Linked DNA regions of Homo sapiens. The protein of the gene in region 2 interacts with the protein of the main gene of each other region in a biochemical or structural test. Each region holds a gene or a part of one and is shown on either strand. Other genes may lie near its edges.

Region 1 (3,500 bases), on a different chromosome or scaffold from region 2:
CTAAAAAGCAAACTAACCCACTTATTGTAAACTCATCAAGCATTTAATGGCTATAATGGCATAAGTGTGCCTCTTGCATTTCTGCTGCTCTCTTCAGACACATACACTCCACCACTCCTCATAACTGAAAAAGCTCCAGATTATACCTGAAAATTGGCGACAATGCCCATTCCGAAACATCCCACCAATCCAAGCACTAAAGACACCAAGTTAAAAACAGGAGTGCTGAAATAGCAGGTTTGATTTTGCTTCTGTACTATTTTGTATCTTGTATACATCGTGGCTGCACCTGAAAAAGAAGAGAACTTTGATGAATGTTCATAATTTGATGTCTTTAGGATGAAAAACAGGAGCAGCTTTGTATCACTTTTTAAAAATGTACTGATTGCAAGTCTCCCCACTTTCCCACCCCTGTCCCTCCTGACTCCATCTTACTCTCTCCCCAGCATGTACAGACACACACACACACACACACACACACACACACACACACACACACACCCCTTGGCTGTTGTCCTTTTCATGTAAATGCTATTATAGTACATGTATTACTCTGTGACTTGCTTTTTCCATTTAACAGTGTACCATGGAGATCTTTTCAAGCAAGTACAAACAGATCTACTTCATTGTTTTCAGGGATCTTATCATGGTCTGTGGTATGAGATACTATATTTATTCCTCATTCTCCTAAGAATGAATTTCTACATTGTTTCCATGTTTTTCCTGCTACAAACAACACGCCATGAATATCCTTGTATATAAATCTTTGGGTTTCTGAAAGACCAGTTCCTAGAAGTAATATTACTGGGTCAAAAAACCATGCACAATTAGAAACACCTCCAAATTGCTCCAGCCCGTTGACGATTTAGACTCCCACCAGCAGAATTTGCGAGCAATTGTGTATGCCCTTGCCTTTTTAATTCTGTCAGTCTAATAAATGAAAATTCAACCTGTTGGGTTAGTTTGCATTTCTCTGATCATTAGCAAGATTTAGCAACTTTCAGTATATCTACTGGTCATTTGCATTTCTTCTTCTGAGAAATGCATGTTTACAATTTTCTTTTTATTCTTCTCTTGGGCTTGTCGATATCTAATTTGTAGTTACTTTTTACACATTATGTCCATTAGTCTATTATCTGCTATAAATATTACAAATTTTCTTCTGCTCTGCTATTTGTCTTTTAACATTGTATCTTGTATCTTACATCATTTGAAAGTTTTAATTTTTAATCTACTCATATCTATCAATTCTTCTGCGTTTTGTGTTTCTATTCCAAGGTTTAAAAAATATTCTCCTGTAATTTAATTATTGCATAGTTTTGCTTTTCATGTCTATTAAATTGCAATTGGTTTTTGTGTATGATGTGAGGAGGATAGTAAAGGTATGTTTTTCCAAATAGCTAGTCAATTAACCAAATACCATTTGTTGTAATTTGGCAATAAAATGTAGCCTCCATGAGAGCAGGGCTCTTGTCTGTTTTGTTGGCTGTTGTAAACTCAACACTAAGTCATAAACAAGCACAAACCCTATCATATAGTACATACTTAGTAAATGTTGAATAAATAAATAGCTACCATAATTTTAGATACATATTCCCTTTAACTCAGCAAATTTATCTTATAGAAAAACTCACACAAATATGCAAAGATATATTTAAAAGATGTTCACTTCAACATTAGAATTACAAAATACCAGAAATAGCCTAAATGTTGGACAATAGGGAACTGATTAAATAAATGATAATACATCCTTGTGAAAGATATCATGCATGTGTGGAAAGGATAAAGTAGATGTGTATATATTTACATAGTATGACGGCCATAATCTATTCCTGAATTTTTAAAAAGCAGGCTAAAAACTAATAACTTATCATAAATCTTTTTTTTTTTTTTTTTTTGTGGAGACAGGGACTTGCTCTGTCACCTGGGTGGGAGTGCAGCGGCACAGTCATGGTTCACTGCAGCCTTGACCTCCTGGGCTCAGGCAATTCTTCCACTTTATCCTTCCAAGTAGCTGGAACTACAGGCACACATCACCACACCCAGCTAACTTCTTTTTTCTTTCTTTCTTTCTTTTTTAACTTTTTGTAGAGATGAGATCTCACTACATTGCCCAGGCTGGTCTTGAACTCCTGGGCTCAACAGATCCTCCTGCTTCAGCCTCCCAAAATGCTAGAATTACAGGCATGAGCTCACATAGACTATTTCAAATGAATATATTTGTCAGTTTCTGCTTTATTCAGAAGCAAAAGCCGTATTTATCACTTGCTGTGATAAAATAATCTCTCTGTTTTCCAAGTCTGGATTCTTGGCAAGGATGGTGTAAGAGGGCACTGGGATTGACTGACTCCATATTGCTACTTCCCCTTGCTCACCTCCAAAACTTTAGGAGGACTACAAATGGTGATGCGGTGAAACTTTCCTGCTACCAAGTAGGATGAACAAATTCCAAAATGCCAAGTCACTAAGTAGGGTCAGCATCACTGTCCCTTCTCACACTGTACCAGTAGAGAGGAACAGAAAGCGTTGGTTACAAGATAGGCCCTTGGCAAACACTTGATTGTTTGGGGGGAGATTATAGAAGGACTAAGAGAAAATGCCCCACATCTGATATCTATATACTTGAATCACCTTATAGAAGACTGAGCTTTACATTAATTATACAATAGTTGTAATTAATATGCATTACATTAATTGGCTTATGACAAGGTTGCACCCTATCATCTGCATCTTAGGTACATCTGAGGAACTGAAAAGAAAAATCATACTATTCCTTGCTCCACCTGTCCCCTTTCTCTAACAGGTAAGATAATGCCTTTGTCAATGGTCCTCAAACTTTAGTGAGAAACCAAGTCCCCTAGAGTGCTTGTTTACAACACATCTTCAGGAACCCACACTCCCAAAGGTTCTGGTTGAGTAGCATGGCCCAGGAACCTGCATTTTACGAGAACTCCAGGTGACTTTTCATCAGCTTGCCTTCAGAATACACTTTGAGAAACTTAGCTTACGCATTGGGTGTCTTTGGCTTACATAAGTGTCTTGACCATAAATCAACACTTTTAAAAACTAAATTGCACTTAAAATCCGTTCCAGAAGTTTGGTATTTAAAACCACCTACAGCAAATCCTGTTACAAATTACTAATTAAAGTATAGTTCTCTAATAAAGCCATAATTTTTTATATCTTTTAACTTCAGTTTCTCAAAATAGGACAAAAATCTAGCTGCAAAGATTGTGCTTTTAAAAAAATTATACACAAGGCCGTGTGCAGTGGCTCACACCTATAAGTTCAGCACTTTGAGAGGCCAAGGCAGGTGGATCACTGAAGCCCGGGAGCTCAAGGCCAGCCTGGCAACATGGTGAAACCCCATCTCTACAAAAAACTACAAAAAATTAGCTGGGCGTGGTGGTGTGCACCTGTAGTACCAGCTACTCCGGAGGCTGAGGTGGGAGGACTGCTTGAGCCTGGCAGGTTGAGGCTGCAGTGAGCCGTGATCACGC
Region 2 (3,500 bases):
ACAGAGGAAATTAGATAAACTGCAGCTATTATTATATTGCCAATCTGGTTTTTTGTTTTGAATGGTGAAATTACAAGCTGTAAAGCAAGGACAATATTCCTTTAGAAAACTGGGAATAAAAGTCAGTAAAACAAATGGTAGAAAAATCTCATGGGGGACAGGACAAGAGGAATGTATTCATTTTTAAATTAGAAGAGCTAATTTAGCTTTCTTGCTCTTTAGATGATAGGAGAATGAGAGGCTAGAATAAGAAGGTGAGAGGAGAAGAATTCCAGTAGCAGCAATTTTAGAAGAATTTGGCAAATGGGTCCACATTGCAAACTAAGTGCTATAGGAAAACAGAGTATCCAGCAGCCCAGGGAAACGAAAAATATTCAGTCACGAAGGTATCTGTCCAGTTTTTATTCAATGGAAAACACCAGTTCTTAGCCAAGCAGCTCTTTACTGAATACAAAAAAGAAGCAACTTTCAATAATACAAAACCTATTATCTTTAAAATAATCAATTACATTTTAAAGGAAATATTCTTAATCTAATAGTACTAGAAGACAAATTTTTTGCTTCAAATGCTTCTCAGTTAACTGGTCCTTTATAGGTTCAGTTTACCTACAGACATGAAACTGTGGTCTCAAAAACGAAGTCTCAAAATACAAATTAAAAAGCAAAACCAAAAACCTGCAAAACCATTCCTAACTATTGAAATTGGGTAATGGATGCATGGAAGCTTGTTAAAATATTTCATTACATTATTCTCCTTTGAGTATTTCTAAATATCCACAAGATGAAGATTTTTTTTTTTTTTTTTGAGACGGAGTCTCGCTCTGTCACCCAGGCTGGAGTGCAGTGGCGCGATCTCGGCTCACTGCAAGCTCCGCCTCCCGGGTTCACGCCATTCTCCTGCCTCAGCCTCCTGAGTAGCTGGGACTATAGGCACCCACCACCGCGCCTGGCTAATTTTTTGTATTTTTAGTAGAGACGAGTTTTCACCGTGTTAGCCAGGATGGTCTCGATCTCCTGACCTCGTGATCCGCCCACCTCAGCCTCCCAAAGTGCTGGGATTACAGGCGTGAGCCACCGCGCCCAGCCATGAAGATTTTTTTAAAGCCTCCAGATAAAACAGCAACTAGCTATAGGACCTTAAACATGTTAATTTTTCTAAGTCCCAGTGTCCTCATTTTTAAAATAGGGATATCAACACCTACTTTGCAAAATTGATGTGAAGATTAGAAACAATGAATGTAAAGCACACACCAGTACCTGGATCAGGCATGTGGTTATTAAACAGTGATTGCTGTAGGTATGTACATTCTCAAGAGAGCTTGACATTTAGTGAGAATTTGTACTTTGCAGAATTAACATTCCAGATGTGTCTATGAAATAACATAAACGATTTTATTTTTCTAAAATTCTTTTAATTTTCATTATTTCAATAATATACCAAACATTTCAGAAAAGTTTTATGTAAGATTGGCTTATAAATTTCCAATCATTTTTAGTATCCTCAATAGGATAAGATTTAGTCTCTTGAAAGATGAACATCACTTTTGGACTCCGTTCAGTCATTCCAGTTAATTCCAGTGGGTAATCAAACTATGAAATACCAGTCTGAACCAAAAACTAAATGAATTGGGATGAGACTGAAATTCTTATATGGTCCATTAGAAGTAATCTAAATGAGGGTTCTTTCATCACTATGTATTTCAAGAAACTTGCTTAGGACACTTATTATCCATTTAACTTAACAGTTTTTAATTCTCCCACTTACCGATGTAATACTGCTATTGTTGGCTGCACTGAAAGGGTCAGTGCTTGAAGTGGCAAAAGGATCAGTAGATTGCCTGAAGAAACAGTCTGATGCAAATGGATCTGAACCTTTGAAAGGATCACCACCAAATGGATCTAAAAAAATAAGGCACGAATATAAGAGACAAAAAAAAATTATTGCACTAAATTTCCCATCACTTGAAGGTATGATCAGTGCCTTAATTAAAAGACAGTCTGGGGCCAGGTGCAGTGGCTCACGTCTGCATTCCCACCACTTTGGGAGGCTGAGACAGGCAGATCACTTGAGGTCAGGAGTTCAAGACCAGCCTGCCCAACATGTCAAAACCTCCTCTCTACTAAAAAACACAAAAATTAGCCAGGCATGGTGGTGCGCACCTATAGTCCCAGCTACTCGGGAGGCTGAGGTGGGAGACTCACTTGAACCTGTGAGGCAGAGGCTGCAGTGAGCAAAGATCTGCCACTGCACTCCAGCCTGGGTGACAGTGAGACCCTGTCTCAAAAACAAACAAACAAAAAGACAGTTTGGGCCAGGTGCAGTGGCTCACACCTGTAATTCCAGCACTTTGGGAGGTTGAGGTAGACGGATGACTTGAGCTCAGGAGTTTAAGACCGGCCTGGCTAACACAGTGAAACCCTGTCTCTACTAAAAATACAAAAATTAGCCAGGCGTGGTGGTGCGCGCCCGTAATCCTGGCTATTCGGGAGGCTGAGGCATGAGAATAATAGCTTGAGCATGGGAGGCGGAGGTTGCAGTGAGTCAAGACCGCACTACTTGTACTCTAGCCTGGGCAACAGAGCAAGACTGTCTCAAAAAAAAAATCCAAAAAGACAGTTTGAAATACTGTAGAATCTAAGCTGAGTACTTTTTATTTCACAGACTCCTTTGCAATTTTGATAAAAGATACAGAACCTTCCACCTAATAAACTTATTTTTAAAATTAACATATAATTTCAAGGGATCCAATTTTAAGTCCCCTTATTCTACGCTACCGTAACTAAAGAAAACACAATAAAAACTTCTAAATGTATTTTTCTCTCTGAGCTCAAAGCTAACAGCCAATAGTTTAGAACAGGTTTGGGATGCAAAACTAAATGGTAAACAAGATTTGCATTATTCTAATGAAAATTCCCAGAAAAAGAATATCTCAAAAAGCCTGATGTTTTAGTAATTCTTCAAGATTCTCTGCCTCTAATCACACGTGTGGGCTATAATCTTAGGAAAACAAAATTACATTCTAAACCCTGAAGCAGTATAGATCATTATGCTCACCAAACCTTTAGTTAGTAAGGAGGAATCAGAATAAATATTTAAAGCACCAAAGTCTAAACACTAATGTCATTTTTAAAAAAGTAAAGCTATCGGGCACAGTCGCTCACACCTGTCTGTAATCGCAGCACTTTGGGAGGCTGAGGCAGGAGGACTGCTTGAGCCCAGGAGTTCGAGACCAACCTCGGCAACACAGTGAGACCCTGTCTCTACAAAAAATAAAAAAAAATCAGTCAAGTATGCTGGCATGAGCCTGTAGACCTAGGTACTCAGGAGGCTGAGGCAGGAGGATTGCTTGAGCCCAGGAAGTCAAGGCTGCAGTGAGCCATGATCACACCACTGCATTCCAGCCTGGGTGACAGAATAAGACCCTGTCTCAAAAACAAAAAACACCAAAAAAAAAAAAAAAAAAAAAAAGAAGAAGTAAAAGTAAAGCAACAATTCATTA
Region 3 (3,500 bases), on a different chromosome or scaffold from region 2:
TTGGCGTTCCAGAAGAGGAGAATGGGACTAAAATAATATGTGAAGTGATAAGAACTGACAACTGCTAAGAAATGTCCAAAGGTCCACATTCCAAACCAATTGATCCACAATTAAAGAAATCCAACAAATTCTGAACAGAAAAAATAAAAAGAAATCTACACATGTGTATCCTATAATAAAACTAAAGAATGAAACCATATCTCAAAAAAATGGGGTGCGGGTCTTAAAAGGTGTCAAAAGAAAAAAGAAAATCACTTTCAAAGGGAAACAGCTACACCAACAGCTGATTTATCAGTAACAATGAAAATCAGAAGACAGTAGAATATCTTAAAAGTGCTGAGAGAAAACTGCCAGCTAAGGAAACAACCCAGTGAAAATATCCTTCGAGAAATACAGTTAAATGAAAGCATTTTATGTATTTATTTATTTATTTATTTATTTATGAGACAGGGTCTTACTCTGTCTCCCAGGCTGGAGTGCAGTGGCGTGATTCTGGCTCACTGCAACCTCTGCCTCTTTGGCTCCAGCGATCCCCCTACCTTAGCCTCCCAAGTAGCTGGGAAGCACACACCAACACACCCAGCTAATTTTTGTATTTTTTCTAGAGACAGGGTCTCTCCATGTTGCTCTGGAACTCCTGGGCTCAGGGGATCTGCCCACCTCGCCCAGCCAAAACTTTTTAAAAGACAAACTAAAACTGAAAGCATTTGCCACCAGTCAATCCTCACTAAAGGACATTCTAAAGACAGAAAGTGGTATCTTGCATATGAGATGTAAGAATCATCATCATTCACCATCATCTTGTGGAGGATGTGTGTGTATATGTAAGTGCATGTATTATACCAGACAACAACAGCTAAAGTAGGAGTACAGGGGATGTGAATAAAATTCAAGGGTTCTAAGGTTCTCGCATTGCTCAGTAGAAGGTGAAAGTACTGATCGAATGTGCTGTGCTTTCTAGGGGTAACCACTTAAAGAATAGAAACTGACTGCATGACTTAAAACAAGCACAGGGAGATAATGTAATGATTTTAAAAATCCAAAAGAATGGATGCCTAGCATACTAACTTTCTGCCTTTCTTTTTTTCTGTGATATGTGTTTATGACTATACTTTTAAAAAAATTGCCATGGCTGCACCTCACATGTTCTGATGTATAGTTGCTTAGAAGTGCAATTTCACAATTTTCAAATACGGAAATTTTATAGCTATCTTTTTGTGGTTAGTTTCTAGCTTAGGTGCACTGTGGTCAGAGAATACAGTAACAAGATTTTAAATCTGTTGAGACTAATTTTATGTTCCAGTTCAGGGGTGGCTAACTACAGTGTGTGGGCCAAATCCAGGCCACGGTCTGCTTTTTTGTACCAACAAGCTAAGGATGGTATTTGTATCTTTAAAGGGTTAAGAAAAAAAGATCCAGCACTTTGGGAGGCCGAGGCGGGCGGATCACGAGGTCAGGAGATCGAGACCATCCCGGCTAAAACGGTGAAACCCCGTCTCTACTAAAAATACAAAAAATTAGCCGGGCGTAGTGGCGGGCGCCTGTAGTCCCAGCTACTTGGGAGGCTGAGGCAGGAGAATGGCGTGAACCCGGGAGGCGGAGCTTGCAGTGAGCCGAGATCCCGCCACTGCACTCCAGCCTGGGCGACAGAGCGAGACTCCGTCTCCAAAAAAAAAAAAAAAAAAGAAAAAAAGATGAAGAAAAAGAAAGGGTGAAAGAGAGAAAGAAAGAAGTGACAGAAACTACATGGGGCCAGCACAGCCTGAAATATTTACTGTCTGGCCCTTTACTGAAGTTTGCCAATCCCTGGTCTAGCACACGGTCATTTAAAAAATGTTTCATTACGTTTCAATGTTTCAAAATGTTTCCAGTGCCTGAAAACAACATTCTGTGTTGCTAAGTGCCATATTCCCTAAGACCTTTAGATGCAGTTTACTAATTTTGTTGTTCACATATTCTGTATCATTACTGATATGTTTTTACTTGTTCTATCAATTATTGAGAGATATAAAAATCTCTCACTGTAATTGTATATTTGTCCATTTCTCTTTGTAGTTCTGTCAATTTTTGCTGAAATATTTTGAGCTTACATTGTTTTATATCTCTTTGTGAACTGAACCTTCTATCATGATGAAGTGACTCTTTTGTCTCCAGTAATGCTTTCTGCTTTAAAGTCTATTTTTATTGATGTTAACACAAACAGTGCTAGCTTTTTCTTGGTTAAAATTTGCCTGGTACATCCTTTTTATTTTTATTTTAGATCTTCCTGGAGGCGGTAGTAAGCATGGCAAGGCAAGAACAATAAATAAAAGAAATAATGATTAAAAGAAAGAAAAAATACTGTCATATTTGCAGCTGATATGGCTATGTAAGTAGTAGAAAGTACTTACATAGTAGTTAAGTTAGAAAGTTAAATAAATGAAAAATACAATACTGTTTATTAACAGCATAAAAATAAGATCCACCGAGAAATACCTCCAATAAAACTGTACAAGATTTTGATACAGAGACAATTACAAACTTTGGGAGAAAAAAAAAAACAAAACTAAAAAAAGGCCTAAACAAATGAACGGACATAACATTATCTCCAAGTTGACCTATGACTCAATGTACTCCCAAACAAAATCCCAACTGGGTATTAGCAGAACTTTCCAACTTAATTCTAAACTGTATATAGAATTACAGGGCCAAGAAGAGCCAACAAAAAAGGGCAAGGGAACTGCCCTATCACCTATCAAGCCATATTATTAAGAATGTTCGCACTATAGACAAAAGTTAATTTCATATGGATTAATGACTTAAATGTGAAAAGCTTTCAAGAGATAATACAAGAGAATATTTTCATGACTATGAGTTAAGGATTTCTCAAACAAGCAACAGGAACCCGATACATAAAGGAATAATTTGACAAGCACAGACTACATAAATAATTGTTTGTAAACAACAGGGAAAAGTGAGAAGACAAGTCACAAAAGAAAAAAAATTTGCAACACACACAATTGACAAAGGATAGTATCCAGAATATGTAAAGGTCTTCTAAAAATCAAAAGGAAATGACAACCCAATAGTTGCTTCCAAAGAAAAAAAAATTAAATCACCAATAACATATTAAAAGATACTCAACTGCAGGAAACAGCTCGGAAAAAACATAGATTAAAAACGCTGCAAAAATGTATTCTCTGCCAAAATGCTTGCTATTAATCATAATACAATTAGTCAACTACAGATGAATATATTTGCATGCTTCACATCTCCCTTGGTCATTTTCCAATTTTCCAATCATTTGCAATCATTATATTTACTATGTGTAAGTTTGTTTTCCCTTCATATAAACAAGTGTTGGTTCATAAACCAACAATGAGCAATGCCCTCTACGCTCTCATAGAACCCAGACCACTGGGTGGACTAGCCCCAGCTCTACCTCTAATGGACTTCTGGTACCTTACGCAGCCTTTCCTCCTGGGTTCCCTTATTTATTCGTGATTGCACTAAGTGAGCTC
Region 4 (3,500 bases), on a different chromosome or scaffold from region 2:
TAGTTGGTAACTCACTGTTAATTGTTTGAGCCAGATCAAGACCCTTGAGAAAGAAAAATGCCTTAATAGCTTATGTCAAAACACCGAATTTCCAAACTCATTGTCTCATTACACTCAGGCTTGTAATAATTTCTTTTAGGCTTTGGAATGTTACAATTTGCACAATTTTGTGTGTGCATATTTGTACAAGTATTAAATAAGTGATTTTAGTTTCCTGGTTTTTTTTTTTTTTTTTGTGGAACTCCGTTTTCAGCACTTTGCATCAAGCATAGTAAATCAAAACAGAGAAAGTGGGCAGTTTTAATAGTAGTCATGGGAGAGTAGTCAAACGAACACTGAAAGTGCAGTAATTCCACCTCATCCATGTTTTCACTGTCCACAGTTTCGGTTCCTCACAGTCAACTGTGGTCCACAAATAGGTGAGCACAGTACAATATGATATTTTGAGAGAGAGAGAGACCACATTCATATAACTTTTATTACAGTATATTAGAATTGTTCTATTTCATTATTAGTTGTTGTTAATCTCTGTCTCTTTTTTTTGAGACAGAGTCTCGCTCTGTTGCCCAGGATGGAGTGCAGTGGTGCAATCTCAGCTCACTGCAACGTCTGCCACCTGGTTTCAAGTGATTCTCCTGTTTCAGCCTCCCAAGTAGCTGGGACTACAGGCGCGCGCCACCATGCCTGGCTAATTTTTGTATTTTTAGTACAGATGAGGTTTCACCATGGTCAGGCTGATCTCGAACTCCTGGCCTCAGGTGATCCACCCACCTCAGCCTCCCAAAGTTCTGGTATTACAGGCATGAGCCACCAAGCCCGGCCCGTTGTTATTAATCTCTTACTGTGCCTAATTTATAAATTAAGCCTTATCATAGCAATGTATGTGTAGGATAAAACATTGTATATATAGGGCTTGGTAATATCTGAGGTTTTAAGCATTTACAGGCATCTTGGATCATAACCCCTGTGGGTAATGGGGAGACTACTGTAGTATAGTTTAACCCTTATAAAGGAAGAGAAAAAATAGATTAGGTGAAGTTGGTTTTAGTCATATATGAAGTCTTTAAACACCTTATCAAAATATTTTTAAAATTTTGTGTGTGTGCGTGTGGTGGAAATGTTTTTGTCTCGTTCATAGGCTTTGAAGACAAGATTCCCAAAAGGAGATTCTCTGAGATGCAAAATGAAAGACGAGAACAGGCACAGCGGACTGTTTTAATACATTGCCCAGAGAAAATCAGTGAAAACAAGTTTCTTAAATATTTATCCCAATTTGGACCTATTAATAATCATTTCTTCTATGAAAGCTTTGTAAGTATTTGAAAAACAATCTAACTTAACGTTTATGCTTTTCAAGGGTGGAGGTCTCCATTAGTTGTTTTTTGCTGTTGCTTTTTGCAATATGGTAGGTAGGTTCTCTTTGATATACTGCATCTTCTTTATCTAGATTTCTTTAATGAGTTTTGTTTTTGATATGGGATTCTTATAGCGGTATTTTAGGATTATAAGTCATTTATGACTGATTTCATTATTTGAATGCTTAATTTTATTTTTTAAGAGACGGGGTCCAACTATGTGGCCTATGCTGGAGTGCAGTGGCTGTTGGCAGGTACGATCATATTGCACTACAGCCTCGACTCCTAGGCTCGGGTGATCCTTCTGCCTCTGGAGTAGCTGGGACTACAGTCCTGCACCACCACACCCAGCTTGAATACTTTAGATAGTCTCTTTAACTTGCGGATGAAGGCCAGTGGGAGGGGATCTTTGTTTTGCCTTTGGATTTTTCTGCTTCATCATTCTTTTCAGTCTTTTCAGCTTCTCTTAACTAACATTGTTTTAAGGTTCCGTTTCTTTTTTTTTGACATGGAGTCTCACTCTGTTGCCCAGGCTGGAGTGCAGTGGCATGATCTTGGGTCATTGCAACCTCCGTCTCTTGGGTTCAAGCGATTCTCCTGCCTCAGCCTTCCAAGTAGCTGGACTTACAGACACCTGCCACCACGCCTGGCTAATTTTTGTATTTTTAGTAGAGGCGAGGTTTCACCATGTTGGCCAGGCTGGTCTTGAACTCTTGACCTCAGGTGATCTGCCCACCTCCATGTCCCAAAGTGCTGGGATTACAAGCGTGAGCCACTGCGCCCGGCCCAGTGTTCCTTTTCTTCATCTACTTAAATTGAATAAAATTAATGCTATGTTAGAATCATATCATTTGTAAATTTTAAAGACTTGATATTTTGTAGCATTATGATAATTGTTTTAATATATGAGCTAAAATAGTATGTTAGATATATCGTGAAATGTGTTCTGTTTTTTCTTATGTTTTTGGTATAGGGTCTCTATGCTGTCGTAGAATTTTGCCAAAAGGAAAGCATAGGTTCACTGCAGAATGGGACTCATACTCCAAGCACGGCCATGGAGACTGCAATTCCATTCAGATCACGTTTCTTCAATCTGAAGTTGAAAAACCAGACTTCTGAACGGTCACGCGTACGGTCAAGTAATCAGTTGCCACGTTCAAACAAGCAGCTTTTTGAATTACTTTGTTATGCAGAAAGTGTAAGTTTTTAGGTGTACCTCAACTTTTAGAACTATGTATTTTTTTATGAACAATAAAGATTCCTGTAAAATGTTCAAGCTACATTATTGTTTAATGGGTATAGATCTTCAGTTTTACAAGGTGAAAAGAGTTACGGAGATGAATCGTGGTGGTGGATGCATAATGAGATGAAGGAAAGTTTTTTTCTATTTCTAGCTTTCTAAGAATGTCGTCATGCTCAACACATTGAGTAGATGTTGAGTTTTGACATTTGAGATGGTATTGATGACTGGCATATGGTCTTGAGATTGTATATGGTTCCTAATGTCTTTTTCTTTCCCCTCCTAATGTCTTAACGTAGTGAATTGTAGATTCACTGTAGATTTCCTCATGTCAAGTCATTCTTGCATTCACAGAATAAACCCTACTTAGTCAAGGTGTATTTACAAAAATGCATTATTACATTTGTCGTGCTAATATTTTTATTACAATTTTAATATCTCTATAAATAAATGGGATTGCTTTTAAAAATTCAAACTACAGGATATGTTGAATGAAAAGTGATAGTAATCCTTGTCTGCTCCTTCCCCGCCATGCCCCATTTGTACTTACAGGTAACCACATTCTTCTGAAGTTTTCGGCCTTTTGAACAGTTTAGGTTTTCTTTCTCTTTCCAGCATAATGACATAAAATTGTACATGGTTTTCTGTCAATTTTAAAATGTCTTCTTTCTGATTCTCTCTCTCTTTTTTTTTTTTTTTTTTTGAGATGGAGTCTCGCTCTTGCCCAGGCTGGAGTGCAGTGGCATGATCTTGGCTTACTGCAACTGCTCCCCGATTCAAGCAATTCTCATGCCTCAGCTGCCCAAGTAGCTGGGACTACAGGTGTGCACCACCACACCCAGCTAACTTTTGTATTTTTAGTAGTGACGGAGTTTCGCCACTTTGGCCAGGCTGGTCTCGAACTC
Region 5 (3,927 bases), on a different chromosome or scaffold from region 2:
CATACCTGTGAGTCTTCTAACTTCAGACCTTTTAGTTTCCCTCCAAGTCCTTCCATCCATGTAGAGACAGCCCTTATCACTACTTCTTCTCCCATATCCATCCTTTTTCTCATAGCCCACATGAATGAGACTCAGGCAAGAGTTCACATTGGAAATTGGGTGTAATTGCATCTCAAGATAGGCATAAGCAGAGCTTAGACTGGGGCCCCCCAGTGGTATAGTGGTACAAGTGGTTGACTCACACACAGCACCTCCACTATGTTTTGGCCATTAGTCTTCCTCGTTGACTCTGGAACAACATTGCCTCCACAGCAAAGGACTTCATAGTAAATTTGGTTTATAATGCAGCTGTATTCAAAAATGGGAGAGCTAGGGAACTAGGATATGGGAAAAAGGCACAGAGGAAAACGTATGGTTTGAATGAATAAGGCTCCTACGACTGTCTCAGCTTCTCCACAGCAGCATCCACGTCGCCCCCCGTAGCAATGAGGGCCTGAAGATTGGCTTCACGATTCAGAAAGCCCATGGACCGCAGTTGCTCCAGCTGCACCTGAAAGTGAGCCTCAGGCTGCAGCTGCTGGGGATTTGTACTAACTAAATCTTGCAGCATATGGAGAAAGGGAGGGGAAAGGAAGCCCAGCTCTGCAGAGTCCAGTGCTGGGAACACCTCAGGAGGTGGATTTGGGAGAGGATCCTCAGACATAAGGGGATCTTCTCTAGACTCTATACCTCCTGCCACACTACCCGTCCCTGCTAGGCAAGGCATGAACCAGAGTAGGAGGCGAGGTGCTTCAGTAGCTAGGACCTGTAGACCCTGCTCAATCTGCCGCAGGGCTTGCAGGGCACGGGGGTTTGCCATGGCTGCCTGAAGGTGCATCAGCAGTGGCAGCTGTGGTTGTATCTCATCCTGTAACTGTGGAGCTGGATTCATGCCATCTGGCCTCAGAGATCTTGGATAAGCCGGGGATGGCAGCCAGGGAGGCTCAGGGATTCCAGGAATGGCTGCCGTGGGGGAAAAAGATAAGGGAGCAAATGGAACCCTGTTGGCAGAATCTCCCAGCCCCGAGACAAGATCAGGCAAGTTTGTGCTATGTCCAGTAGAGCTTTTCCCTGCACCATCTTGGTCTCCACCTTGTCCAGTACTGTTCTCTGTGGGGTATCTCAGGAAAGCTGGGCAGGAGGACCTTCCCTTGATTGCTACTGACTCCTCGGGGAGAGGCTGGCCTGACCCAGGCTCCTGAGATGAGGGTGACGATGGGGGAACTCTGTTTACTGATGGTGGTGGTTCCTGGCTTTGGCTGAGGGCAGATGCAGTCCCCTGTAGATAAGTTCCTAGGGACTGGGGGTTCTCGTGTAATTGCTGGAGATAGTCATAGAGCCTTATAATACCCAGAAAGTTTGGAAACCTATTTCTAATGTCAGGTGCATCCTGATCCCCATCCTGCCTTCCTTGCCTGCTACCTGAGCCTCCATGTGTGGAAGTCCAGGGGTTGGGGAGAGGGTCACAATTCTCCATCCTTGAAGGTTGGCTGGTGGTGGTGGTGGCATTATCAGTAGTGGCAGTGGCAAAGGGATTGCCGCCAAACTGCTCCTGGACTGCGTTAAGCATTGGGTCCATAATATCTGTGTACATAGTGCAAAGCACATTGTAGCCACCAGGAATGCTCTCCAAGTTACTGAGCACCCGGTCCTGGCTACGTATCATCTCCTGCATCATGGCAGGGTTACGTAAAAACTCCAGTGTCTGCCGCATAATTTCCGGGTTGTTAAGAATATGCCCAATCTCAGGGTTGTGCTGGATCAGCTGCTGCATATGGGGGTTGTCAAGAACCAGCTGGCGTACTAGGCCTGTGTTGGACAGCAGACCCGGGATGAAGGGGTCATCAATGAGCTGAGTCACAAACTCAGGCACAGACACATGCTGCCGCATCAGGGAGCTTGGCTGGTCAGGGAAGCCACGATAGGCCAAGCCCAGCCTACTGAGGCCTGTGAGGAGACCTAAGCTAAAGGCAGGGGGCCCATCTGCTGGGTAAATGGAGCTTGGCTGAGGGAGTGATCCAGGACTTGGGCCCTGGGTAGGGACAGAGGCAGCTGGGCACTCATTGCCCATGGCACGGTGCTGCCTCTTGATGACCAGGTGGACAGTGAGGCCATCTCGCACTCCACACTGTGCCAGTGAGTCAGGATCCTTGAGGATTTTGCCAGCAAAGATTAGAACAAGCTGATCGGGGTGGGCCTTAAAGCGCTGAGATATCTCTTCCTTCAGCTGCTGGATAGTGCATGTGTCTGTAACTGAGAAATCCTCCTTGTCTTTGGGCGTCTTCACTGTCACCTTGATGAGGTGGGGATCCTGGACTGGTGCTGGGCTGCCCTGTGGCAGGGCTTCTCCACCTTTGGCCATGGTGGCAGCAGGAGGCCCAGATCTGTGGGGACACAGCTAGGGGCATGGGGATTGGAGACCAAGATCATCCTTTCAGGCAATGGCAAAAGTAGGAAGGGTGAGTATGAAAAGGGTCTTGAATATCAGGATAGGGAAATCTGCAGGGTCTACATGAAAGGGGCCATGAGGTTTCTGGGGCAGGATGCTTTAGGAAGATTGCGGGATTGAGATATGTTGGAATCAGGGGAGGGAAATGCAGGGCCCTGGGAAAGAGGTCTGTAGTTGATGAATACAGGGACAAAGGTAGAAGGAAGGGCCCAGCTGGGGTGTACATACCAGTCAGCTGTGGTCCCGTCCTTCTCTTTATGCAGGGCTCCAAACCTCCCTCATCTTGCTACACAGCCACCCCTGAGGCCTTCTGGGCCAGAACCCGCACTATCAGGTCCCTTCTGTGACCTCAGTGCTGACGTCACAGCCTCACACAGAGAAGATTCTTGAGACTTCTCTAAGGAGCTCGGGATCCCTGGGAACTCTTGCTCTCCCATCTTTTACCACTTCTACTTCCTCCACCTCAAGTGCCTTCCTGTGGAGACTTCTGTGGAGGCTCAGACTGGGATTGGAATGTTATAAAACATCTCTCAGTCCTCTCTGTCTCCATTCAGACCCACATTCAGCTACTTCCTGGTCCAGGGTCTTCTTCCTGGTATCCTATGTCCCAGTTTTCTGTCTTATTCAACATTAACCATGAATTCTTTACGTATTTTCAAAGTATTGATTCGCTGATGGATAGGATTTGGGGTATAAGGGAGGAGTCAAGCATGAGATAACTTTTTTTTTACTTTAAAAGAAATTGTTATCCCCAAAGGAACTCAAAGGATTGAATATTTACTAAGACAAAGATTGGGAATAAGCACTTTGTCTAAATTAGCAGGTTGTTAAACAGTTTTACATACATTTGAGATGTCTATTTTACATACAAATGGAGATGTAGTATTGTAGTTTAATATTATAAGTCCAGAGTTTATTAGCATTCAAAGGGTACTTAACATCATGGACTGGTTTAGATTAGCTAGTTAGTGCATACAGGCAAAATGATAGAGATTTTAAAATCTGAGTTTTGTGGCTGTATAACATTTAGAAATCTGGAAGATCAGAAGAATTTGGCAAAGGAAACGGAGAAAAAATAAAAGAGTAAGGTAGAAAAAAAGAGAGAGAAAAGAGAAAGGCCAAAGGAAGAAGAGTTTCAAAAAGGAGAGAGTAACCAATCATGTGAAATGATGCTGCTAGGTCAGGAGGATGAGGATTGAGAATTGGCCACTGGATTTGAAAAAATAAAGAATTGGAGACCATGATGAGACTAGCTTTGGAAGGATAGTAGAGGCAGGAAGCCTAATCAGAGTGTGTTTAAAAGCAAATGGTTTGGGAAAAAGTAGATCCAGTTAGGGCATTTTAAATGCAAGAAAGGGGATGACGGCTATGTGGGGATGTGGGGTTAAAGGCTTTTTAGATTTTTTTCTTAAGAATAGTGTAATGATGTTTATATTCTG
Region 6 (3,500 bases), on a different chromosome or scaffold from region 2:
GCTTACTAGCTATATGTACAACCTGTTGGAATTAATTTTTAAAAATTAACATCTGATAGATTTAGTTAGGGAAAAGTAAATGCTCCCTTCTTAACCAGAAAGTAAACTGATTTCTTAGGTCAAAAGAAAAAATATTTTGAGCAAAGGCTACAACAGACAATTAAGTAGATGGATTACTACACCAGAGCTTTAGCATAGTGCCTAGTATACAGAAGATGAAACTCAATAAATTAAAAAAAGATATGACTCAGTAAATACTTGCTAAATTAATGATTTTTAAGAACGGAGGCTTTGTAGGGCAAAACATATTTAAAGAAGCTAACAGAGATAGGGAATGATTAGAAGGAAGAATCCCTAACTTTCCTGGTAATTATTACAACAAAAAGCCTGCTGCCAGGAACAGATGAGTTAAGATAAAGTAGAAGTAAAGGTTTTCAGAAACCAAACCAACAAAAAGCCAAGGGATAATGAATTATATACCTATCTAGTTCTCACTGTCTGTCTTTTATCCTTCATTGTGTCAGACTAACCTTACCCATAGTTAATATGTGATTTGGGGAGGCTTTATTCTACATACAAACTCTTCACTCACCATCTTTTCTTTTCATACTTTTCTTGTAGAAACTCTTTCACTTTTTGTGGATCCCTGAAGTCTGGAATTGCTGAAGATCTATCATCAAATAATCCTAGCCAAATCTGTTTACAGACCTTTGGAAAGAATTAAAAAAATATATGTTAAATTCAACATCTTCACTTAATGAAATTTTAAGGGGATACTATGATTCTTTCAGGAAGCTAATCTACATAATAATTTTAATAATATGCTTTCAATGAGGATACTAATAAACAGGAACTAAATTTATTTTTAATATGTTGCAGTATGCAGTAAAATTTTAGCAACAAAATCATTAAAAAGGGGAAATGAAGAGTGAAGTGGGATTTCAGAGGACCTGGGGTCTTTTCAGTCTTGGCATAATCATAAACTTCACCATTAGCAAAGTCATGTAACCTGCTCAGTTCCCTTACAAAACAAAGGAACTGAACCAATGGCTATTTCACAGGCCCTTTAGCAAGTCTAAAAAACCAAAAAGAACAAACAAAAATACTAGAATCATAAACACTTTAAAATTGTAACAATAAACACAAATATAAGGCAAACACACTATTAGCTTTATAGCTGTCTCCTATGCATTTTTGGTCCAATAGCTAAAAAATGAGAATCTGAGATATTTAACTTTCAGAAAAACCAAAAGAGAAATGAAATAAAATAGCACAAAAAGAACTATAAAGAGAAAAACTGATAAAGCAGACTTCATCAAAATAAAAAACTATTCTTCAAAAAAACTTAAAAAGTACAAAAATCAAGACACCAACTGATCAAAAGTATTTGTAAAATGTATAAGAACTTGAAACTGGAATATATAAAGAATTCCTACAACTCAATTATAAAAGACAGATAACCCAACACTTGTTTTGGTTTTTGTTTGTTTGAGAAAAGGTCTGTCTCTATCACCCAGGATGGAGTGCAGTGGTGCAATCTCAGCTTATTGCCTCCCAGGCTCAAGCCATCCTCCCACTTCAGCCTCCTGAGTAAGCTGGGACTACAGGAGTGCAGCACCACAGGTGGCTAATTTTTTGTATTTTTTGTAGAGATGGTGTTTCACCATGTTGCCCAGGCTGGTCTCGAACTCATGAGCTCAAGCGATCTGCCCGCCTCAGCCTCCCAAAGTGCTGGGATTACAGGCGCGAGCCACCATGCCCAGCCAACACTTGTTTAAAGCGGGGGCAAAAGGTCTGAACAAACACTTCACCAAAGATATCAGCAGCCCACTATCATTAGTCATGCATAAAATGCAAATTAAAATGACACTGAGGCCGGGTGCAGGCGGATCACCTGAGGTCAGGAGTTCGGGACTAGACTGGCCAAAATGGTGAAACCCCATCTCTACTAAAAATACAAAAAAATTAGCCAGGCGTAGTGGTGCATGCCTGTAATCCCAGCTACTCAGGAGGCTGAGTCAGAAGAATGGCTTGAACCCAGGAAGGGGAGGTTGCAGTGAGCCAAGATCATGTCATTGCACTCCAGCCTGGGCGACAAGAGCAAAACTCTGTCTTTAAAAAAAAAAAAAAAAAAAAAAAGACACTGAGACTCCACAAGACAGACATGCATATACTACTAGAAAAGCCGAAAACAAAGTGTGACTGCATCATGTGTTGGTAACAATGTGGAACAACCGGAATTCTTTAGAATGTAAAATGGTGTAAGCACTTTGGAAAACATTTGGCAGTTTCTCAAGAGTTAAACATAGACCTAGCATATGATGTAGCCATTCTACTTCTAGGTATTTATTCAAGAAAAATAAAAGCACTTTTCCACACTCAGACTGTACATAAATATTTGTAGCAGCTTTACTGATAATAACCCCAAACTGGAAATCACCCAATTGTTCATAAACAAGTGAATAAACAAATGGGAGAATATCCAAAGAAGAACATTATTCAGCAATTAAAAGGAGAAAACCATTAATACAAGAAACATGAATAAACCTCAAGATTATGCTGAAAGAAACATGTGCACCCCCCCACCAAAACGTATATACTGCATATTTCCATTCATTTAAATTTTTAATGTAAACCAGTCTACAGCGATGAAAAGCAGATCAGTGGATTCATTACAAAGGGTTGCACAATGAAAATATATGCTATCTTGTTATTGTGGTAGTGGTTTCATGATACATACAAATGTCAAAACTCATCAAATTGTACACTTTAAGTATGTACACGTTATCAGTTTAAATATCCAAGTTATCAACTATTCCTCAGCAAAATTATCAAAAACAAGTCCACGAGTTTCCAAAATACATTATTCTAAAGAATAAGCAATTACGACACTATGAAAAGAGCATAGTATCTGGTTTCAAAAACCCTGACAAGTATTTAAGAAATCAGGGAAGGAAAAGCGTACTTCTCAATCTTACCTGCTCACTGAACTGGGTATGGGAGAAATAAGAGAAAGGTTAGGAGAAAGGACTTGCCCTTCTCCTTTCCTATCATGTCCCCAAATCTGTTTCAAAACATTTCTTGTGGGTCGGGCGTGGTGGCTCACGCCTGTAATCCCAGCACTATGGGAGGCCAAGGCAGGCGGATCATGAGGTCAGGAGATCGAGACCATCATGGCCAACATGGTGAAACCCCACCTCTACTAAAAATACAGAAAAAACAAATAGCTGGGCATGGTGGCGCATGCCTGTAACCCCAGCTACTCCAGAAGCTGAAGCAGGAGAATCGCTTGAACCCGGGAGTCAGAGGTTGCAGTGAGCCGAGATTGCGCCACTGCACTCCAGCCTGATGACAGAGTGAGACTCCGTGTCTGTCTGTCTATATATATATTTCTTGTGGTTCCTTCCTATTCCAGGCTCAGTACAGATACTATAAAGTCATTTAGGAAGTGACAGTTAAAACGAGTGAGAACTAGAGTAAGGCACAATCCATTATGAAAA

The links.
Region 1: the proteins of EPS15 (region 2) and DRAM1 interact in a test that uses a peptide from one of them, tested with the Homo sapiens proteins (one large-scale study listed by BioGRID and IntAct).
Region 3: the proteins of EPS15 (region 2) and CDC40 interact in a test that uses a peptide from one of them, tested with the Homo sapiens proteins (one large-scale study listed by BioGRID and IntAct).
Region 4: the proteins of EPS15 (region 2) and MTPAP interact in a surface display test, tested with the Homo sapiens proteins (one large-scale study listed by IntAct).
Region 5: the proteins of EPS15 (region 2) and UBQLN3 interact in a test that uses a peptide from one of them, tested with the Homo sapiens proteins (one large-scale study listed by BioGRID and IntAct).
Region 6: the proteins of EPS15 (region 2) and AGFG1 form a complex in vitro, tested with the Homo sapiens proteins (one study listed by BioGRID).

The regions. Positions count from the first base shown.
Region 1 is NC_000012.12:101,898,080-101,901,579, reverse strand, and holds part of DRAM1 (DNA damage-regulated autophagy modulator protein 1), read right to left. Parts: intron 290-3,500; coding exon 147-289; intron 1-146. UniProt on the Homo sapiens protein: Lysosomal modulator of autophagy that plays a central role in p53/TP53-mediated apoptosis. Not involved in p73/TP73-mediated autophagy.
Region 2 is NC_000001.11:51,397,267-51,400,766, forward strand, and holds part of EPS15 (epidermal growth factor receptor substrate 15), read right to left. Parts: intron 1,900-3,500; coding exon 1,766-1,899; intron 1-1,765. UniProt on the Homo sapiens protein: Involved in cell growth regulation. May be involved in the regulation of mitogenic signals and control of cell proliferation. Involved in the internalization of ligand-inducible receptors of the receptor tyrosine kinase (RTK) type, in particular EGFR.
Region 3 is NC_000006.12:110,183,427-110,186,926, reverse strand, and holds part of CDC40 (pre-mRNA-processing factor 17), read right to left. Parts: intron 1-3,500. UniProt on the Homo sapiens protein: Required for pre-mRNA splicing as component of the activated spliceosome. Plays an important role in embryonic brain development; this function does not require proline isomerization.
Region 4 is NC_000010.11:30,339,279-30,342,778, reverse strand, and holds part of MTPAP (poly(A) RNA polymerase, mitochondrial precursor), read left to right. Parts: intron 1-1,138; coding exon 1,139-1,311; intron 1,312-2,328; coding exon 2,329-2,553; intron 2,554-3,500. UniProt on the Homo sapiens protein: Polymerase that creates the 3' poly(A) tail of mitochondrial transcripts. Can use all four nucleotides, but has higher activity with ATP and UTP (in vitro). Plays a role in replication-dependent histone mRNA degradation.
Region 5 is NC_000011.10:5,507,158-5,511,084, forward strand, and holds UBQLN3 (ubiquilin-3), read right to left. Parts: upstream 2,801-3,927; 5' UTR 2,717-2,800; intron 2,471-2,716; exon of another isoform or gene 2,438-2,470; 5' UTR 2,402-2,437; coding exon 434-2,401; 3' UTR 143-433; downstream 1-142.
Region 6 is NC_000002.12:227,517,156-227,520,655, reverse strand, and holds part of AGFG1 (arf-GAP domain and FG repeat-containing protein 1), read right to left. Parts: intron 709-3,500; coding exon 593-708; intron 1-592. UniProt on the Homo sapiens protein: Required for vesicle docking or fusion during acrosome biogenesis. May play a role in RNA trafficking or localization.